Regions from separate parts of the Homo sapiens genome. Here region 2 is linked to region 1. The links come from fine-mapping of genetic effects on gene expression. A gene starts in region 1. The other region holds a variant in brackets. All regions are shown on one strand. Distances are between the middles of the regions.

Region 1 (5,376 bases):
AGGCACAGCAATCTACATTTTAAAATACAGGAGACAGAGGACTAGGGAATGTGGGTGTCTGTGAGAATCAAACAGCCATGCTAGCAACCCAGGCAGAAATGAAAACGGACCTTCCCGGCTCCTCAGTAAAACTTCTCTCCTATAAGTCAAGCTCTCTCACACTTTGCTAATTCTCTCGTCTATCTTTATTTTACCGCCATGCTCAGATGTTGAGGAAATAATTATGTTATTAAGTGTAAGTGCTTTGAGCACTTTGGAGAAATGAGCTTTATAAATATGAGCCATTTCTATTCACCTGAGAAGCTGATCAGCTTTTTCTTCTCACCCTGGCCCTCTTTGTACCCTCTACAGGACATTTACATCCCTGAACAACATGCTCATGCTGAGTCCACGGAAGATACCAATGACTCACAAAGGCCAGAGAGAAGTGCAAGTGTAGAAACACGCCACATTCACACATCAGCCATGGGGAGGGAGGGAAATCGTTGTTTGCTAGAAATGACACTCCAGAGGTTTTGCTACTCATCATCTTCTTGCTGCCCAAGCCTCTGTTCAGTCCCCCACCAGATGCGTCATTCAAGTTGTAAAGCAAATGTACTATTTCTTGACATTTCTAGAAAACTACACCCTGGACTGCACCCTTACAGCTGCTCATGTCCATGAAACATTCTGTGTGGAACTCCATCCAGGCTAGCAGAAGTCACTGGACAATGCCAAAGCCCACCCAGGATGGACCAGTGGGAGCCGATGAGCCTGCTCTGTGTGACGAAGGGACGGCAGGCTCCAAGAACAGCCACCAACACCAAGACCCTTCAGTCCCAGCGAGGTGGCCTCAGGGTAGGAGGATTTCTAGGAAGTTCAGAGGAAACAAGGTAAGAAAAGAAGCCAGGGTTCATCGTCTCTCTTTCTAAACCCCATACTGTAGGGAAGTGGTCCTCATGCCCCCAGAGGACATGTCTGGAAACATTTTTGATGGTCACAGACAAAGAGGGGAGTGCTACTGGCATCTAATGGGTAGATGCCCAGGATGCTGCTAAATTCCTCCAGAGCTCAGGGCAGACCCCAAGGCCAACAAGGAATTACCTCACCCAAAATGTCAACAGTGCTGAGGATGGGAAACCCTGCCCTGGGAGACCAACGTTGCCAGATCCCTGGCATCTCAGAGCCCATAAGGCAGACAGGAGAGTTAAACTCAGGTGGAAATCTACCCCTCAACCTGCATAAATTCCATTACTGCATCATTATCTGAAATGGAAAGCAGAACAAAAACCTCACAAAAACTAGAACAAATGAATGAATGAAGGAACTAATGAAGGAATGAACTAATGAATGAATGAATGAATGAACTAATGAATGAATGAATGAAGTAATGAATTTGAATTGAAACACAGATTCAGTTTCATGTTGCCTCCAATCTCAAGAGGATCCTAGCCCAGGCAGCTCTGAAAGAAGGAAGAGAGGGAGGTCCAATTTCCTATCTCCATAAAGAGACTTAAAATGGGGAGTACAGAGTCTTGAAGTCCTTCCCCACAACAGCTTTCCATTTGTTCCTCCAAATGCTCATGGGCTTTAAAGAGTTTTGGTAATTTCAGAAGACCTCTTACCTCTTCACCTGCAGGAATTCACGAGAGTGGAGCAGCCGTCTGGGAGGAGGGCTAGGGACAGCCAGCCGGTCTTGCAGGGCCCCTTGTCATCAGCTCAGCCCAGTGAAAGGAGCACTGAGCCCAGCGTCAGGCCTGGTTCTCACCTGACTCTGTCACCCTGGGCCTGTGGGGTCCCAGCAGGTCACTTTTTACAGCCTCAGCTTCCTCATCTGTGAATAAGGGGTCAACAGACCGTAGTCTCCCACATCTCCCCATTACATATGGAATAAACTCCCAACTCCGCAGGCCTTTGGAGCACCTTAGTGCAGAGCAGCCTCTGCACCCACCAACACCTCCCTCCCATCGTCCTCCTTCTCTCCCGTTCCTCTCAGCCCTGGCTCAGTCCATGCTGATCCATCCTTTCTGTCTGAAACCCCTCCTGCTCTCCTCTCCTGTCTTGAGTAGACAGGACTGCTCTCTTCTGTAGCATTTTTTACCTACCTTTCTTTCTTTCTTTCTTTTGAGATGGAGTCTCACTCTGTTGCCCAGGCTGGAGTGCAATGGCGCCATCTCAGCTCACTGCAACCCCCACCTCCCAGGTTCAAGTGATTCTCTTGCCTTGGCCTCCTGAGTAGTTGGAATTACAGGCACTCGCCACCATGCCCGGCTAATTTTTTTTGTATTCTTAGTAGAGCCGGGGTTTCACCATGTTGGCCAGGCTAGTCTTGAACTCCTGACCTCGTGATCTGCCCGCCTCGGCCTCCCACAGTGCTGGGATTACTGGCATAAGCCACCGCACCCAGCCTTCCCTACCTTTCTAAACCATGAGGCCCTGTATGGTTAGGGGCCACAACTTACTTATCTCTGAACTCGTGGGTGTCTTGGCAATACCTGGTACACAGTAAGTCCTCAATAAATATAGGATGCATAAACGAGTAAAATCCAAGCCATTTCCCACTAAAACCTCCAGACCTCTGGTGTATGATGACCTGCTGTCATAGCCCAAAGGAATGGTTGAGTTTCAGGTATCCAGAGAAAAATGCAGGTGTAGAGCTTTCCCCTCAAACGTATTAACAAATAGATGGTGCTCAGTCATTTTCGCGGCAGGCTGCAGAGAAATCTTAAACTTTCGTGTTGTTTCACTGAGGGTACGGCAGAAGAGCCCAAGGAATGTGAAAGGAGAAACTTGCATAATTAGACTTTATGTGGGGAGTAGGCACCGAGTGTGTGACAAGCACAAGGGGCTACGTGTGCGGCCAGATGACGCTGCACGGTCAGAACCCACAAAACAACACGGCAACAGGTGGATTTTAAACCCCTTCTCTGCTTTCAAAGCAGGTCCAGGCTCTACATTTACAGAAGGAGAGTTAGGGCAAGGGGAATGTGGGGGAAACTGAAATTAGTTAGAACTAAGATCAGCAATAAAATTCTTCAAAGACACTGCTTCTCACTTTACCAGGATTTTTGTTTTGTTTTGTTTTGAGTTTTTATTTCTTCTTTTTCTTTTTTGTTCTTTGCTTTTATCAATGAAGCAAGTTGCTAGGATGCAAAAGGAGTTGGGGGGTAGAAGGGCGGGGTGGGAAGCAGAGGTGGGAGGGGTCGAGGTTGGAGCACCTGTCGTCTGCATGACGTGGACGGCTGGTTCTGGTTGTATTTTAAATGAAATCTCATCCCAGCGTAGACACCACGTCTGGAATTACGATCCACCCTGTGATCTGTCACTTTTATATACACACAGGGGAGGGGACCGTTTCCATAGAGAGGGAATATCACAGCCCACTTAGGAACAATACCGGAGAAGCAGGAGCCGAGACCCCGGAGCAGCCACAAGTTCATGGGGACGTGCACGGGGCCGCCCTCCTGGCCCTGAAGCTGCGCCGGCCTCCCTGAGCGTTTCGCTGCGGAGGGAAGTCCACTCTCGGGTAAGCTTGTGGCTGGGACTGACTTATGAAGGGTAAATGTATCTGCCCTAATTTAAGCAGGAGGTGCCATGCACTAGACAGGTGTGAGAGATGAGAGCTGCTAGCGCCCCTGGGTGGAAGCCCAAGGGAGCGATGCTGAACGCCCCCCACCCAATCAGCAGAAATCAGCCCCAAAGGGACCAGGGGAAGTTTCTCAGGGAGGCACAATCACATTCCCACGTTGGTATAGAGAGACCCTCTTTCCAAAGGTGTTAGATCAGAGGCAGAAGGTGTTCACACAAATCTGTTTTCTCTGAACAGAGCACAGCTGTGCACAGGAAAGTCAGTCCTCGGAGACAGTTTACAAATGGGGATGGGGTAGGGATGCCGGGGCTAATGGGAGCCACAGGACATGACTCCACGCCGCCTGCAAAGCAGCGAGGACACCTGCACTTACTGTTTACCTGTGCCACAAACCTTCACCTGTGCCATCTCCCGTCACTCTCGGGCACACCTGTGAAGCAGGTAACGTCTCCTTCCTAGGACGCGGCAAGTGAAATGCAGGTTAAGGGATTCACCCAAGAAAAGTCAGAGGCAAGGGAGTTTCCCCAGCCAGGTCCTCTGCCACCAAAGCCCAGAGCCCTTTGCCACACTAGGAACATTGCGGGGGTGTGTGCAGATACCTACAATGGCTAACTCCTACCTGTGAAGGGGAGATGGATGTTTGATGTTTATGTTTTCTGAAAATTCCTGTTCGCAATTTCTTTCCCAAGCATAGCCACCTACCAAAAATAACAAATGTGAGATTTTTAAAACGTTTTAAGTGGTCTAGTTTCAGTTTAACTTCTTATCAGTGTTTGCAGACAAACGGAGCCCACAGGAATAGCTCTGCACTTGGCAGAGATGTGTGATCAGTACTGTTTGCCTCCTGCCTTTGCTGCTTCATGTCCTGTCCTCTCCCTGTGAGGTGCTGGGAATTGGAGGCTGACCCAGGTCCCTCACGTTTCAGTGCTTGGCTCTGCCACAGCTCCCAGAAGTAACTGTGTCTCTTTACAGCATCCTCGACAAGTGCTACTGTCACCATAGCCCAAAGGAATGGTTGAGTTTCAGGCACCCAGAGAAAAATACAGGTGTAGAGCTTTGCCCCTCAAATGTATTAATAACTAGATGGTGCCCAGTTATTTTCGTGGCAGACTGCAGAGAAATCTTAAACTTTTGTGCTGTTTCACCAAGAATATGGCAGAAGAGTCCAAGGAATGTAAAAGGAGAAACTTGCAAAATTAGACTTTATGTGGGAAGTACAGAGTATCTTTTCTTCTTTGGGGAGAGTTCCTTTTCTTTTATCCTATAAACCCTAAACAAATCTAAACAGATCCTAAAAAGAAAAGTCCTGGAAAGAAATCTGAATCTACCTTCCAGCCCCCAGCCACTCACACACTTTGATGGTGAAACCATCCAGGGTTGCAAAGAACCCTTACATTTTAAACGATCTAAAACTAAGCTCAGCACCGGGCGTCCCTATCATGTCCAATTCACAGTTCTGGGAGGTTCCTTTGCTGTGTAACTTTGCATCATTGCTGATGGTAAGGGGACACCTTTCAATACCCTCACAACCGTGTGCAGGCTAGAGCTGAGGGTTTGCAGAGAGAGAAAGGTCTGCTACCTGCAGATGCACCAAGAACAGAGCGCCACGCAGGACACTTGCTCCCTGACACTTTCACAGATTTTTCCACACCTTCAGCACCCTAGCCGTGATTACAGTATTCTTCTCTGATGGTAGACTTGGGATTTGAAAAATAAGAAGGTAATGCATTTTTTAAAAGGCACAGTATTTACAAATTGACCCCAAAAATGTGAAAAAGTAAATATAGAGGTAAAAGGGATCTCACTCC
Region 2 (5,376 bases), 37 kb before region 1:
CCAGCCCTGGACAAGACTGGAAACTGGCCTGATTGGTGTTTGGTTGATTCTTAGCCCCTGATCCACGCCTCTCCCTTCCTCTCCCAACCTGTGCTTTGTTCCATTGCCTTCTGGCTTGACCAAGCCCCCTGCCTCTAATGGTTGAAGAAATTCCTCTTTCCATGGCATTTGGAGCTAAATCTGAGTTTCCTGAAGGCTGACAAGCCTCAAAGCAGAAAGCCTCTGCCACTGTGATTGCAGACTCCGCGACAGTGCAGTGGGAGGAAGGGTTTGAACTGTGCTCTTCGCTGAGGAACGGGCACTGCCTCCTCCCAAGACTCAAGACAGGGGACACAAGACAGAGGCACAGGTGCTCCAGGGACCTAACACAGGAGTGCTGTTTGCCAGCCTGCATGTGGGTGGGAAGGGGAAGCTGTCCCAGCCCCCTCCGAGTTTTACTGTAGGCTCAATTATAAATCCACCTCACACGACCTCATCCCCTCCCCAGGCTAACTGAACCAGAGCCCTTTCCTTCCCCCTTTGATGGAGATGACCAGCAAAGCCCTTGGCTTAAATGAGTTTCTCTGTTCCTCAGTGATCAGATTTGACTCTGATTTGATTTCAAATGCAGAGAACACAGATAAATCATTGTGCTGCGCTTAATAGAATTGAAGACCTTGTCTCCTGTCCACATTGTGACAGCAGAGAAGGTGGGGGCCAAGGACAGGGGAAGCAGAAACCAGTGAGGCAGAGCAAAGACTGCGTAAGTTCGTGTGGTCATCCCAGAAGGGAGAACAAGACGGTGTCCAGAGCTGCCTTTCTTCCTGCCTGCACTCGAAACCACAGCCCCACAGGGAAATCAATTCCTGCCTCCCCCAGAGACATTATAGAGCAGAGGCGATGATTTCAGTTTCCAGGCCTCCCAGAGCCACCAGCCTGAAGCTGTTCCCCAGCCTCCACTCCAGCACATCCCTGGCTTCCTTTGGCCTCAGCCTTTGGCTACCTGTCTCCCTCCTCTTTCTGTCCAGGTTCACTACCGAATCTCAGTATTTCCTGTCTCTCAGTTTCTTCTATCTCAACTGAGGACAGCCCATGTGACCCTGAATTAGTGCTCACTCAGACAGCCGTGGGGTCCTTAGTCATCTTTCTCTAAAATCTCAGTCTCCACCTCCTTCTAGCCCACTTCCATCCGTATTTTGGCCAAACTCCACAGCTAGGATAGGATTCCTTATGAGCTCAGTGACCTTCACTGAGGCCACTGCACCACCCAGGCTACTCTGGGGGTTGGCATGAAGGATGAGATGCAGGACTCTGTGGGTTTCATCTGTTTTCTTTTGCTGTGTCTTTTACCAAGATGTTGGTCAAGGTTCTTGGTTGCAAACTCTGGATAGCGGATTTGGTTTGGATACTTGTACCATTCAAGTGTCATGTTGGAATGGGATCTCCAGTGTTGAAGGTGGGGCCTAGTGGGAGATGTTTGGGTCATGGGGTTGGATCCCTCATGAGTGGCCTGGTGCCCTCCCCGAGGTAATGAGTGAGTTCTCACTCTGTTAGTTCCTGTGAGCTGGTTGTTTAAAAGACTCTGGCACCTCCTCCTCCCCTCTCCTTTGCTCCCTCTCTCGCCATGTGACACACCTGCTCCCCCTCCGCCTCCTGCCGTGAGGAAATGCTTCCTGAGCCTGCAGAACCAGGAGCCAAATAAACCTCTTTTCTTTATAAATTACCCAGCCTCAGGTATTCCCTTGTAGCAATGCAAAATGGACTAACACAAGAGTTTAAACTGAAAAGGAATTTACTTAAGGATGGTAAGTAGGAGAATCATGATGGTCCACAGAGCTAGCCTCTACTCTAGGCCTCCAGGAACAATGCTCGATCGCACCGTGGGGCAACTTCTGTCACAATTCTGGGGGTCAGTGACTTAGGCAAATGGCTCTTCTGGCCGCTGCTGGGTTCAGTTAGAAATCTGCCACTGACTGTTTACCAGGCAGCTTAGATGTCCTCTACACGTCTCTCTTAGCTCTTTGGAACATTTTCTTGCAACAGCAACAGGAAAGCTCACCTGCATGGCAAGGTCCCAGTGCCTGGAGTCCCACCATTGCCACCTGGCACAGCTGCACAACACGCCCTGTGCTCCCAGGAGATCCCCTGCCCTGATGCGCAGCTGCCTTCCTGGGATGCCCACTTCCCAATCCATGTCTCACAGGGTGGGTGTGGCGTGCATCCATGTGGCGGATCCTAAGTTACATGCCTCCACCTTCATGTGAGCTTTATGGAATCTGCCCTGAGAAAGCAGGATTCCTAATATGGGAAAAGACCTGCTGACTCATGATATGGGAAACAACCAACATCTAGGGAGAATATAAAAAGACGTTGGCAGCAACCAGTGATGAAGGCCCACTCCACCATCCAAGCCCAGCAGCCGACTGTATCGTTCAGAAAGCTGATAGCCCAGGCAGAGAAGAGGTGGCTCTGCAGACTTCCCCAGGGTCCCTGCCTCTGACTCCTGAGTTGGGTCGTCACTCAGAAGCATTCAGAAATGCCAGGATATATCTACATGTTCACTGGTGTCCCAAGGGCTGATCCTCTCCAGCACACTCTCAGAGACGGCTCCGTGACATCCTATTGATCCTCATTTCTTTCATTACCCCTCTGTAAAGAAAGCCTCTTCTGCAGTCCTGCCACACTTGAGTCCTGCACCATGGTCTGGTTTAGCCAGGGGGG[G/C]GCCTCCCAGCCCTCCCAGCCCTCCCAGCCCTCGTGTGTATCTCTGTCATTGTTCTATGAAGCTTTATGGTAAGCATCTGCTTAAGTATCTAACACCATGTCTGTCATGTGAGTTTTGCAGGGCAAGTTGGTTTCCCACTCATCACTATAACCCTAGAACCTCTCACAGTACCCAGAGCAGAGGGTTCGCTTAGAAAATGTTTAGGGGGTGCCCCTTTCATGCTCGCAATCACTTTGATAACATGAGTTCATAGAGGGTTCCTCCATGCCAAATGCTACAAAGGTTATACTGAGGATACGGCACTTCCAGAACTCAGGAGTGAATTCTGCGTCATCGCCCCATGCTCTAGAGAGAAGAGAAGAAATGTATGTCTGGTCCCCTGTACAAGTCAAGCGAGGTGTAGCTTTTACAGCAAGACCAGAAGAGGGAAAAAGCTGCAGCGTCCCCATCAGCACCAGCCCTGAATGGCCTCGGCTCTGCACAGGCCAGGGAGCCAGTAGACTTGTGATCTGACTCCAACACCAAGTGCAATTCAGCATCCCCTTGACTCCAACACTGAGTCCAACACTGAGACCATTCACATTGTTATAAAGGAATACCAGAGGCTGGATAATTTATAAGGAAAATAGGCTTATTTGGCTCATGTTCTGCAGGCTGTACAGGAAGTATGGTGCCAACATCTGCACCTTGTGAGGGCCTCAGGCTGCTTCCACTCATGGCAGATGGCAAAGAGAGCCATTGTGTCCACAGGTCACATGGCCAGAAAGGAAGCAAGAGCGAAAAGAGGAGTTTCCAGGCTCTTTTAAACAACCAGCTCTCCCATGAACGAATCGAGTGAGAACTCATTACCATAAGGAGGACAGCACCAAGCTGTTCATGAGCATTCACCCTCATGGCCCAAACACCTCCCCCTAGGCCTCACCTCCAAACTTGGGGATCAAATTTCAACATGAGATTTGGAGGGTCAAATATCCAAATCATAGCACTATACTCCAAGCTTCTCATCTCAGAGACATCAAAGCAGGGAGCTGGCAAAAACTCCTGCTCAAGTGCATGGCAAGGCAGGAAGTCCTGAGGTTGCACAGCCAAAACATGGCACCTGCTGCTGGATTCCAAGCCAATGTAGAGGGTGGTTGGTTGGATGAGCTGTAAGTTCCACGGATAAAGCTTTGTTGAAGGAGAATTGTTGAGAAGCACAACCATACAAAAATGAGAAGACTAGGAAGAGCTCCTGGGACAGACAGCCCTCTCTTTCTGCAGGTAGTCTGGCAGTGGGAGAGTCAGACAGTGGGCAGATTCCTTCAACCAGCCCATACCTCGTTCCTGGCCATGCAGAAAGCAAAATCATGGCCCCTGGATGGTTTTCTATTTATTGGCCCTTTTAATTATTTCATAAGAATTCAGTTAGACCTGATGTTATAGACTGAGTCGTGTCCTCCCAAAATTCATACACTGAAGCCCTAACCTCCAATGTGACCGTATCTACTTGAAATAGATCGTATCTATTTGAAATAGACCATATCTATTTGAAGACAGAGCTTTTAAAGGGGTAATGAAGGTTAAATGAGATCATAAGAGTGGGTCCTAATCCAGTAAGACTGGTGTCCTTCTAAGAAAGAAAGCGACACCAGAGGTGCATGTGCAGAGGAAAGGCCACGTGAGGACCCAGCAAGCCAAGGAGAGAGGTCTTGAGAGAAACCCACTCTGCTGGCACCTGGGACTTCCAGACCCCAGAACTGTGAAAAAAAAAAAAAAAAGTGATTTCTGTTGTTTAAACTACCTGGTATTTTGTTATGGCAGAGTCCTAACGAACTAACACACTTCGTTCCACTCATCTTCCGTGAGTTTCTCCGTGTGATTTGGGCCTGGAAATGGAAACAGACAAGTCTGGCTAACAAAATTTGTTTCATTGACCATCTATACTTCAGCATATTCCAGAAATGTTTTTTAAAGGTGTCATTTTTTAAAGTATGGCATAATGCTACCGAATCTGAAATCCAAAAACAAAATGTTAGAATTAAAAAGGAAAAAGGTTTACATGACTAATATAATTGCTTCCATGATATTTGAATTTGGGCATCAAACTCAGCTTGAGGCTTCCTGAAGATCAAGGCAAAAGAAAAAAATTGTGTTAACAAAATTATAATCATCTGGAAAACCGGTTTGCTCTTCCAAGAGCAAACCAGTTCTTCAAGATAGGAAAGGTAAAGTTCTTCAAGGTAAAAACAAATTTTTTTCTATGATCACCAGCAGTCAATAGCATTAGACCCTTTGTCAACTAACTATCTGTGTAAGGCCTGGGAGACCCTTGAGGTCGGAGGTGGGGGAGGCTGATTAAGAGTTTCAGAAAATGAGCCTGGGTATCTTGTATCATTAATTTACTCCCTTAATAAGTTCAATCTGGACTCTTTTTCTCAACCCCCTCATTGTCAAGGTAACCCAACCCCCTTCCCCTTCCTCTAACTCCACCCAGCCCCATCCCCAATTATGTCAATGGCAGCGGGGAAAAGCGAGGGCAGGGGAGAGCAAGAGAAGCTGTGGGGAAAGGAAATTCAGCATGGAAGTGGAATAAGTCAGCCGACCCTCCCATTCTCCCACCGCCATAGCCCTGTCAGCAACACACAGAAAGCTGAAGCAAGACACAGGGAGCAGGCTGGGCACGCTGAACTCACCTT

Direction of the effects. Positions count from the first base shown, and alleles are read on the strand shown. Sizes are in standard deviations (SD) of each study's normalised expression.
For the expression in sigmoid colon of the gene that starts at base 3,241 in region 1, G is the high allele of the variant in region 2 and C is the other (moderate effect, 0.57 SD a copy in GTEx).

What was found. PIP is the estimated chance that this variant, and not a neighbour inherited with it, causes the effect. A credible set is the group of variants that fine-mapping cannot tell apart.
Region 2: its variant is the best candidate, but not a certain one, in a credible set for the expression of UCN3 in sigmoid colon (GTEx, PIP 0.57).

Annotation. Positions count from the first base shown.
Region 1 is chr10:5,361,726-5,367,101 of GRCh38, forward strand. UCN3 (urocortin 3) reads left to right here and starts at 3,241. Exons shown (of 2, transcript NM_053049.4): 1 at 3,241-3,505.
Region 2 is chr10:5,324,483-5,329,858 of GRCh38, forward strand. No RefSeq gene overlaps it. Among named protein-coding and RNA genes, the nearest start is that of UCN3, 38 kb to the right of the region's middle. The variant G/C (reference allele first, on the strand shown) is at 2,701.